2 separate regions of the Homo sapiens genome follow, and region 2 is linked to region 1. Evidence: fine-mapped expression QTL. A gene starts in region 1. The other region holds a variant in brackets. All regions are shown on one strand. Distances are between the middles of the regions.

Region 1 (5,364 bases):
GACCTCGTGATCTGCCTGCCTCGGTCTCCCAAAGTGCTGGGATTACAGGCTTGAGCCACCGCGCTCGACTGACACTATTTTTTTGAGACAGAGTCCATTCTGTCGCTGGAGTGCAGTGGCACGATCTGGGCTCACTGCAACCTCCGCTTCCTGGGTTCAAGCGATCCTCCCCCTCAGTCTCCCAAGTAGCTGGGATTACGGCGCATGCCACCATGCCCGGCTAATTTTTTTATTTTTAGTAGAGACGAGGTCTCACCATGTTGGCCAGGCTGGTTTCGAACTCCTGACTTCAAGTGACCTACCCGCCTTGGCCTCCCAAAGTGATGGGATTACAAGCATGAGTCACCGCGCCTGACCTATGACACTACTTAAAATGATGAAAAATGAGAAATATAAACATCTGACAGTGGAGTGATTCAATTAATTATGGTCTATTCCTACAGCAAATAACATGTAGTCAATAACATTAACATATTATGTGGAGAAAACACTCACTATGATAGCAAGAGAGAAAGCAAGACACCAAAATTGTGTTTACAGTATGACCTCATTTTTTTTTCCCCAGAAAAATACAGCTTTATGTGTTATGAAAAGGCTGGGAGTAAATTAAAACGTTGATGGTTTAATTTTCCTCTTTACTCTTTTGTTCATGTTTTAAAGAACATGTATTACTTTGTTTTTTTTTTTTGAGACAGGGTCTCACTCTATCACCCAGGTCAGGGTGCAGTGGCACAATCATAGCTCACTGCAACCTCTACCTCCCGGACTCAAAGGATCCTCCCATCTCAGCCTCCAGAGTAGCTGGGACTACAGGTGCGCCACCAGGCACAGCTAATTTTTGTTTTTTTTTTTTTTAGAGATGACGTCTCGCTATGTTGGACCAGGCTGGTCTTGAACTCCTGGACTTAAGCAATCCGCTCGCCTCAGCCTCCCAAAGTGCTGGGATTACAGGTATGAGCCACTGCATCCGGCCCCTACTTTCATAATCAGAAAGAAAACAAATCTGATGTCTTAAACACACTAAATACAACGAGAACAACAATAAAACAAGTTTGTTCACGCCTTCTGTAGAACTGAACCTTGGGGTGCCCTGATCGTGGCTCAACTGGCTGAATTTCAGGCTCTAACTCTCCAGATCATTCTCTCGGGCTTCATCTTAACTTGCCCTCAGTCTGCCACAGATAATCCTTAGGAAGTGAAGGAAAGACATCTGATTGGCAGTTTCTGCCCTTCCTCCAGGACAGGGGAGTCCCCATCTGGCCCCTGCTCCCTGTCCCAGCCTCTGCGTCTGGTCTCTGGATAGGCAGTAAACAGCAGCACCACCTCCTTACCTCCTTCAGTGACCGTTTTAAACCAGTCCAGGAGCTTCTCCAAACAGGTGTCATCTGCCACCGGCTGCCTGGGATCTACCAGAACAGCACAGAGAGCCGGGAGCAGCTGGGCGCATTCTGGGTCCATGGTGAGGCCGCAGGCCCTGCAAAGGCAATGTGAGAGCCAAACCTCAATGCCCACTCCAGACCCAGCTCGCTCTAGTCACAGCAGCCCACCATGCCTGCTCAGGCCTGGGAAGGGGCCCCAGAACTTTCATCTCAGACCAGGAGAACCATGATCCCCAGACCAGAGGTCTGTACTGCAGGGATGGATGCAAAGCTTTGGTCTAGGTGGGGCCCTGAGCGCTGGTGGCGGGGCTGAAAGGGGCAGATGAGGGTCTAGCTGAAACCACAAGGCCTCCGGAACTCAAAGTCTGTCACCCTTGGTCTTTGGTGCAGTCGGGGCAACAGCGTGGTGCTGGCCCAGGCTGCAGGTGGGCCAGAGTCAGGGGCATCTTTGAGTTCCGGGGTCAGCCATGTGTGCAAGGGGATGTCTACCCATGCCCCAGGGCCAGCCTGGGCTGGAAAGTTTCTGTCCCTCCCAGCGTCAAGTGGTGGCTGCATTTGACGTCCTGAAGCCAGCAGGGGGGTGCGGAGGGGAAGGGGCGCCTGTCCGTGTGTCTGTCCCTCTCAGGGTCAGTGGTGGCTGCATTTGCTGTTCTGCAGCCAGTAGGAGGGTGAGGAGGGGAAGGGGCACCTGTCCGTGTGTCTGTCCCTCCCAGGATTAGTGGTGGCTGCATCTGAAGCCGGCGGGGGGGAGAGGGGGGCGGCGGGGTGCGGAAAGGAAGGGGCGCCTGTCTCTCCCAGGACCAGGTGTGCATCCGTGCGTCCAGCCTCGGGGGTGGGCGGGGTGGTCAGCGGCTCTGTCTAACCGGGGCACCGTCTGCCAATGCCCGGGAAGGCTGCGTCCCGGGAAGAGGAACCCTCCCCACACTTTGAAGTCAGTTTTGGCCGCGAGCGCCAGGCCCGAGAGTCCAGAAGGGGCGCCAGAGCAGGCGGCCACAGTCGGGCTGGGAAGCGAGCCCAGGTCGCGCACGCCCCGGGCTGGGCTGCTCCCTGGCCCGCCCGCCCCCCTCGGCCGGGTCTTGGCCTCCCCGCGCCCCACTACCACGACCTCGACCCCCGAAGGCCCACGCGCCTCACCGCTCGGTTGCGTCCTCCGCCGCAACCACCCCTCGCCCAAGGCTCCGCCTCCGGACAGTGCCACCTGCCAGGCCCGGAGGAGGCGGAGGACGGAGACGGCTGGCGTGGGGAACTGAGACTGCACCCCTGGAGGCCGCTCTGGAAGCCTCGAGGGCCCAGACTTGAAGGAAGGAGTTCAAGCTGAGAGGGGCTGGGGACAGGCAGGCGCCAAGCCGGTCGCTCCGACAGATCACCCCCGCCAGGCGCCTAGTGGTTCATGCCGAGCATCCGGTGGGTGGGCGGGGCGTCTCGAGGGCGGGGATCTCTGAGGAAGGCGCGGGGTTGTGTCCGGAGGGGCGGGGCTTCGCCTGCAGGGCGCCCAGTGTCTGCACCGGCGGGAGCGAGAAAACTATGTGCCGGAGAGAAGCGTCCTGATCCGTGCACCAAAGCCCTTGGTCATTTAGCTTCAGGTTCTCAAATTAAGTCCTCCGCGGCCGCGCTGTGGCTCATGCCTGTAATTCCAGCCCTTTAGGAGGCGCAGTTGGGAGGATTGCTTGAAGCCAGGAGTTGAGACCAGCCTAGGCAACAAAGCGAGACCCCATCTCTTAAAATTTAAAAAAAAAAAAAAAAAAAAAAAAAAAGGCCAGGCGTGGTGGCTCACGCCTGTAATCCCAGCGCTCTGGGAGGCCCAGGCGGGCGGATCACGAGGTCAGGAGTTCGAGACCAGCCTGGCCAACATGGCGAAATCCCGTCTCGTCTCTAATTTTTGTATCTCTAAGATATCAAAATTAGCCGGACGTGGAGGCGCGCGCCTGTAATCCCAAGTACTCGGGAGACTGAGGCAGGAGAATCTCTTGAACCTGGGAGGCGGAAGTTGCAGTGAGCCAAGATGGTGCCACTGCACTCCAGCCTGGGCTACAGGGCGAGACTCCGTCTCAAAAAAAAAAAAAGAAAATCAGCCAGACCTGGTAGCATGCGCCTGTGGTCCCAGCTACTCCAGAGGCTGAGGCGGGAGGATCGCTTGAGCCCAGAAGTTCAAGGCTGCAGTGAGCTATGATCCTGCCCCGGCACTCCAGCCTGGGCAACAGAGCAAGACCCTGTGTTTTAAGAAAGCAAACAGGCAGAAAAACTAGGTCCAAAAAATTGAGTTCAAAACACTAACTGTGTGTTCGAGAGTCTCAAAGCCAGTGGATAGACAAGGCTCATGTTCCCAAAGCATTGTTTTATAGCAAGATTGTTGGGAGCCAACACCAGATTTAGGAAACAAAGCAGAATTCCTATGGATATTAAAATTTAAAAATTTAAAAGCACTGACTTTGCTGGGTCACCTTTATTTTATTTATTTATTTATGGAGACGGAGTGTCACTCTTTTTGCCCAGACTGGAGTGCAATGGCTCAATCTTGACTCACTGCAACCTCCACCTCCTGGGTTCAAGCGATTCTCCTGCCTCAGCCTCCCGAGTAGCTGGGATTACAGGTGCGGGCCACCACGCCCAGCTAATTTTGTATTTTTAGTAGAGACGGGGTTTCACCATGTTGGCCAGGCTGGTCTCGAACTCCTGACTTTAGGTGATCCGCCCACCTAGGCCTCCCAAAGTGCTGGGACTACCAGCGTGAGCCAACGCGCCCAGCCGTGCTGGGTAACCTTGGAAAAGCAACTTCCCTGACGCTTGCATGCCCCCTGCACACACACACACACGTACATCCTTAGAACTACATGTGTGAAAAAGTTTGAAATGCACAGTTATCTTCCCTGAAATTTGGTTCCTCATTGTGAAATGAGATACTAACATTCACCCAGTTAGGTAATTGTGGAGTAAAGAAAACTCAACAACAGCACTGTGCTAAGTGCTTCACTTACTGTAAACTTGTATGATTCTACAGCAACGGTAGGAGAGTACCACTACCAGCCCATCAGATGAGGAAAATGAGGCACAGAGAGGCTAACTCATAAGGCCTTACAGCTACTGGATTGGCACAGTTTGGATTTGAACCCAAGCAGTCTGGCTCCAGATTTGAATATTGTATTGCACAGGTCCACAATTTTTTTTTTTTTTGAGGTGGAGTCTCGCTCTGATGTCCAGGCTGGAGTGCAGTGGTGTGATCTCAGCTCACTGCAACCTCCACCTCCCAGGTTCAAGCAATTCTCCTGTCTCAGCCTCCTGAGTAGCTGAGACTACAGGCACCCACGACCCCTGGCTAATTTTTGTATTTTTAGTAGAGACAGAGTTTCACCATATTGGTCAGGCTGGTCTCAAACTCCTGACCTCAAGTGATCCACCCACCCTAGACTCCCAAAGTGCTGGGATTACAGGCGTGAGCCACCATCGTGCCTGGCCCAGGTCCACAATTTCTTATCTCAAACTTTTGGGGACAAATGTTTTTTCAGAATTCAGAACTGTTCAGATTTTAGAAATGTGACATGGCACATGTACATTAAATATGAGATTACAGCAGAGTGTGACACACACCCCATAATTAAACGTATTAATAGTTATTCAGGGCCGGGTGCAGTGGCTCACGCCTGTAATCCCAGCACTTTGGGAGGTGGAGGCGGGCGGATCACGAGATCAAGAGAGCGAGACCATCCTTGTCAAGGTGGTGAAACCCGTCTCTACTAAAAATACAAAAATTAGCTGGGCGTGGTGGCACGCACCTGTAGTCCCAGCTACTCGGGTAGCTGAGGCAGGAGAATCGCTTGAACCCAGGAGGCAAAGGTTGCAGTGAGCGGAGATCGCACCACTGCACTCCAGCCTGGGCCACAGAGCAAGACTCCGTCAAAAAAAAAAAAAAAAGAAGTTATTCAGTGAAACTCACTCATGTACACCCCGTGGGATAAATAAGCACTATAAATAGCCTCAGCTCAGAGTT
Region 2 (5,364 bases), 21 kb before region 1:
AATCAGACACCCCCATCCCCACACACACCCTGCACCGGCCCACGCGGCCATCACACTCGGAGCACACGCGCTCCGATGTGGCTGCACTGTTGGCACACGCACAGGCGCGCACGTGGGCGCATACACGCCGGGGCGCCCTGACCTCCCCGCACGCCCTCCCGCAGCCGCCCCGGCCTCTGTCCCCACGCGTGTCACACACGGCTGGGTGTGCTCGCTCACGCCGTCCCGCGACGTTGCTCCAGCCGGTGCCCGGAGCTCGATCGGGAGAGCTGCTGTTGGCCGCCTCTGCCTGCCAGCGTTTGCCAAGCGGTTTCCATGGTGACACATCTTGGCTCCGACAGGAACCAAGGAGTGTGGGGAAGAGGGTCCCCACGGAGGGGGCGAGGCGAGGCAGGAGGTCTCTGCGTCTTCAGGCTCCCGGCAGGCATGGGGGGCTCCACGAGTGCAGACACCCCCCAATCCCAAGCCAGGCTTGCACCCCGAGAAGGAGGCTCTGGGCTGGTCCCTCTGGGCTGCCTGGCACAGGGACTGACTTAGGTCAGTCAGTCATTCAACAAACTTTCTGGAAGAGCCACTCTGTGCTCACAGCCGGGTCTACGATGCTGCCCAAGACGTGGTCTCGCAAGAGGCTCGGAGTCGAATCCTGAGGCTAAACTGACGTCCCGCCACCCTACTGAAGGCCCCATCTAGCAGGTTGGTCCGTGGCTGCGTAAGCACCAAGGCCCACCAAGCACTTTCTCAAAGGGGGGCTCCCCTCTGTGGTAGATCAGTTACAAACGTGTCCCCGATGCCCCACTCCTCCCTGAATCACCACGCCCTTTGCTGTGTGACTTTGCCCCAACTCCTGTCTAGAGGTGGCGTCTACTTCCCCATCCTTCAATCTGAGCCTGTCTTATGACTTGCTGTGGCCAATAAAAGGTGACAGCAATGACATTCCCAGCTCTGAGCTTAAGCCTCCAGGGACATGCGTGCCTCTGCCTGCTCTCCCCGACTCCTGCTATAGCACGAGAACGGGCTGGGCTGCTTTGCTGGAAGGCAAGAGGGCGATGGAGCCTGGGTCACCCTAGCTGAGGCCATCCTGGACTAGCTAGCTCCCAGCTGCCCACAGATGTGTGAGTGAGCCCAGCTAGGACTTGCCAGGCCTAGCAATGAGCAGCAGTACCACCAGGCCCTTTAATACTAAGGACATGTGAAGTCATGTGTTTGGAGCTATTTGTTACTCAGCACTAGCTACCTGATACCCCTCTCTCTAGGGCCCTGGCCAGCAGCTGCCCAACCTCAGTTAGCACAGGCCAGAGGCTCTAAAAGTTCCCAGGGGTGCTAAGAACCAGGCCATGGTGACAGCTGGATTCCGCTGGCTAACAGTGCCAGAGGGTGCCGGGGACAGAGCTTGTGGGAGGGGGTTCCCATGACAAGTCCATGGCAGGAGCTACTGAAGCAGAAGCACGAGTCTCCACTGCCTTTCTTTGCCTCGGTTTTTCCCCCTGTGAAATGGGCCCATCACCCTGTCCTGTCTCTTGGGGACCCCTGGTAAGGTAGCGTGTGTGGCAGCTGGAAACAGACCTACTACGTGCCAGCCCCGGGTTGCAACCTAGGGAGAGAGGCCCATTGCTGCCTTCTAGGTTCCCACAACTGAGAAGGCAGCGTCACTAATCCCAGCTTACAGACTGGAAACAGTGGGGAGAGGATGAGTGGCTTGCCCGAGGCCCAGGACACACAGGAGCAGGTGGGCATGGCCACAAGCCCCGGCTGGGTCTGAGCTGGTGGTTATCTTCATGTTTTTCTCCCTGTGGTCACCTTTTTGGAAATTTTTTTTTTTTTTTTTTTTTTTTTTTTACATTTGACTATTTTCTTGTTTATTGGTATTTCTTTGGGAGATTTTTTTTTTTTTTTTTTTTTTGAGATGGAGTTTCGTTCTTTTTTTTTTTATTTTTTTTTTTTTTATTGATCATTCTTGGGTGTTTCTCGCAGAGGGGGATTTGGCAGGGTCACAGGACAATAGTGGAGGGAAGGTCAGCAGATAAACAAGTGAACAAAGGTCTCTGGTTTTCCTAGGCAGAGGTCCCTGCGGCCTTCCGCAGTGTTTGTGTCCCTGGGTACTTGAGATTAGGGAGTGGTGATGACTCTTAACGAGCATGCTGCCTTCAAGCATCTGTTTAACAAAGCACATCTTGCACCGCCCTTAATCCATTTAACCCTGAGTGGACACAGCACATGTTTCAGAGAGCACGGGGTTGGGGATAAGGTGACAGATCAACAGGATCCCAAGGCAGAAGAATTTTTCTTAGTACAGAACAAAATGAAAAGTCTCCCATGTCTACTTCTATCCACACAGACCCGG[C/G]AACCATCCGATTTCTCAATTTTTTCCCCACCCTTCCCGCCTTTCTATTCCACAAAACCGCCATTGTCATCATGGCCCATCCCCAATGAGCCGCTGGGCACACCTCCCAGACGGGGTCGTGGCCGGGCAGAGGGGCTCCTCACTTCCCAGTAGGGGCGGCCGGGCAGAAGCACCCCTCACCTCCCGGACGGGGCGGCTGGCCGGGCAGAGGGGCTCCTCACTTCCCAGTAGGGGCGGCCGGGCAGAGGCGCCCCTCACCTCCCGGATGGGGCGGCTGGCCAGGCGGGGGGCTGATCCCCCCACCTCCCTCCCGGACGGGGCGGCTGGCTGGGCGGGGGGCTGACCCCCCACCTCCCTCCCGGACTGGGCGGCTGGCCGGGCGGGGGGCTGACCCCCCACCTCCCTCCCGGACGGGGCGGCTGGCCGGGCAGAGGGCTCCTCACTTCCCAGTAGGGGCGGCCGGGCAGAGGAGCCCCTCACCTCCCGGACGGGGCGGCTGGCCCGGCGGGGGGCTGACCCCCCCCCACCTCCCTCCCGGACGGGGCGGCTGCCGGGCGGAGACGCTCCTCACTTCCCAGACGGGGCAGCTGCCGGGCGGAGGGGCTCCTCACTTCTCAGACGGGGCGGTTGCCAGGCAGAGGGTTTCCTCACTTCTCAGACGGGGCGGCCGGGCAGAGACGCTCCTCACCTCCCAGACAGGGTTGCGGCCCAGCAGAGGCGCTCCTCACATCCCAGACAGGGCGGCGGGGCAGAGGCGCTCCCCACATCTCAGACGATGGGCGGCGGGGAAGAGGCGCTCCTCGCTTCCTAGATGGGATGGCGGCCGGGAAGAGGCGCTCCTCACTTCCTAGATGGGATGGCGGCCGGGCAGAGACGCTCCTCACTTTCCAGACTGGGCAGCCAGGCAGAGAGGCTCCTCATATCCCAGACGATGGGGGGCCAGGCAGAGACGCTCCTCACTTCCCACATGGGGTGGCGGCTGGGCAGAGGCTGCAATCTTGGCACTTTGGGGGGCCAAGGCGGGCAGCTGGGAGGTGGAGGTTGTAGCGAGCCGAGATCACGCCGCTGCACTCCAGCCTGGGCACCATTGAGCACTGAGTGAACGAGACTCCGTCTGCAATCCCAGCACCTCGGGAGGCCGAGGCTGGCGGATCACTCGCGGTTAGGAGCTGGAGACCAGCCCGGCCAACACAGCAAAACCCCGTCTCCACCAAAAAAAAAAACGAAAACCAGTCAGGCGTGGCGGCGCGCGCCTGCAATCACAGGCACTCGGCAGGCTGAGGCAGGAGAATCAGGCAGGGAGGTTGCAGTGAGCCGAGATGGCAGCAGTACCGTCCAGCTTTGGCTTGGCATCAGAGGGAGACCGTGGAAGGAGACCGTGGAGAGAGAGGGAGACGGAGAGGGAGAGGGAGAGGGGGAGGGGGAGGGGGAGGGGGAGGGAGAGGGAGAGGGAGAGGGAGAGGGAGAGGCTGTGTGTCAGAGGTTTTCCTCGGAGTTTCGTTCTTGTTGCCCAGGCTGGAGTGCAATGGCACAGTCTTGGCTAATTGCAACCTCTCCCCTTTTTGGAAATATTGTACTTCCTGAGCTAACTGCACTTACGAGGTAATGATTGGTGTGAGTTTCTAGTCTCTGTTTGTTTGTTTTTTGAGACAGAGTCTCATTCTGTCACCCAGGCTGGAGTGCAGTGGCACAATCTTGGCTCACTGCAACCTCTGCCTCCCGGGTTCAAGCGATTCTCCTACCTCAGCCTCCTGAGTAGCTGGGATGACAGGCACCTGCCACCATGCCCAGCTAATTTTTGTATTTTTAGTAGACAAGGTCTCACCATGTTGGCCAGGCTGGTCCTGAACTCCTGACCTCAAGTGATCCACCCGCCTCGGCCTCTCAAAATGCTGGGATTACAGGCGTGAGCCACTGCGCCCCGGCTCGCTCCTTTTTTTTTTTTTTTGAGACAGAGTCTCACTCTGTTGCCCAGGATAGAGTGCAGTGGTGTGATTTTGGCTCACTGCAACCTTTGCCTCCCGGATTCAAGTGATTCTCCTGCCTCAGCCTCCTGAGTAGCTGTGATTACAGGTGCCCACCACCATGCCTAGCTAATTTTTGTATTTTTAGTGGACGGGGTCTCACCGTGTTAGCCAGGCTGGTCTTGAACTCCTGAGCTCGAGAGATCCGCCCACCTCGGCCTCCCAAAGTGCTGAGATTACAGGCGTGAGCCACCACGCTGGGCCCTGCAGTCTCTTTTCACTGGGTACTGCGGTTCAGTGTTACTGCCTAGGGGCAGCTGATCCGCAGAGCCCCTCCCTCTCTGAGTTCCCCCAGGCCAGAGCTGAGAGCCAGGCTCTCCAGATCCCTGTGGGAGGGCCTTGTATCTGAGTCCAGTTTTCCTCCAGCACGAGGCCTGGCATTTAATTACCTGCTATCTTGTCAGCTGTTCAGTGTTCCTGGCCTTTGGATATTTCACCCAGCGTGTTTCATCGTCTTCAGGGAAACGGCTGGTCCAGGCACCTAGCCTGCTGTCACCAGGAAGGGACATGTGCCCCGAGGCGGGGCTGATGTCACTGCTGCACCCTGGTGGGGCGCACCAGCCCACGGCTGTGCCACCCGGGAGGTGCCCTTTTGTTGGAGGGCATTTGCCAAAACCAGCAAACTTGGGTTCTCATTCTGTGGCCTTGAGGGGTCAGGGGGACAGAAGTCAAGGGCCAGTCCTGCCCAAAATGGGGAGCATTATAGAAAACCCTTCCCACCTTAAGCTGAAAACCTAAAGGTCTACACTCTTAGGGTAAGAATGAAACGGAATTAGCCCTGCTCCCTCCACACGAAAGACACTTGGTGCTAAGAGAAGCAAAAAGAAAAAGTTCTTCAGAAGTTAGGGCTACAGGTCTTCTCTAGCACAGATTTGAGGTGCTAGCACAGATTTGAGGTGCTGCCAAGAATGCAGAGAACTCCAAGCACTCAATGCGTTGTTTTGACATAGGGTCTCTCTCTGTCACCCAGGCTGGAGTGCGGTGGTGTGATCACGGCTC

Which allele goes with the higher level. Alleles are on the strand shown, and positions count from the first base shown. SD is a standard deviation of normalised expression in the study named.
As copies of C replace G in region 2, the expression in monocytes of the gene that starts at base 2,551 in region 1 goes up (moderate effect, 0.58 SD a copy in Quach 2016).

Evidence for each region. PIP is the estimated chance that this variant, and not a neighbour inherited with it, causes the effect.
Region 2: its variant is fine-mapped to the expression of BRAT1 in monocytes (Quach 2016, PIP 0.95).

Annotation. Positions count from the first base shown.
Region 1 is chr7:2,552,974-2,558,337 of GRCh38, forward strand. It overlaps BRAT1 (BRCA1 associated ATM activator 1), which reads right to left and starts at 2,551. Exons shown (of 14, transcript NM_152743.4): 1 at 2,514-2,551; 2 at 1,332-1,474. The coding sequence starts at 1,458. RefSeq lists a silencer at 2,306-2,545 and an enhancer at 2,458-3,135.
Region 2 is chr7:2,531,569-2,536,932 of GRCh38, forward strand. No RefSeq gene overlaps it. Among named protein-coding and RNA genes, the nearest start is that of MIR4648, 7.2 kb to the left of the region's middle. RefSeq lists enhancers at 1-697, 1,883-2,803, 2,804-3,723, 4,433-4,934, 4,935-5,364. The variant C/G (reference allele first, on the strand shown) is at 2,342.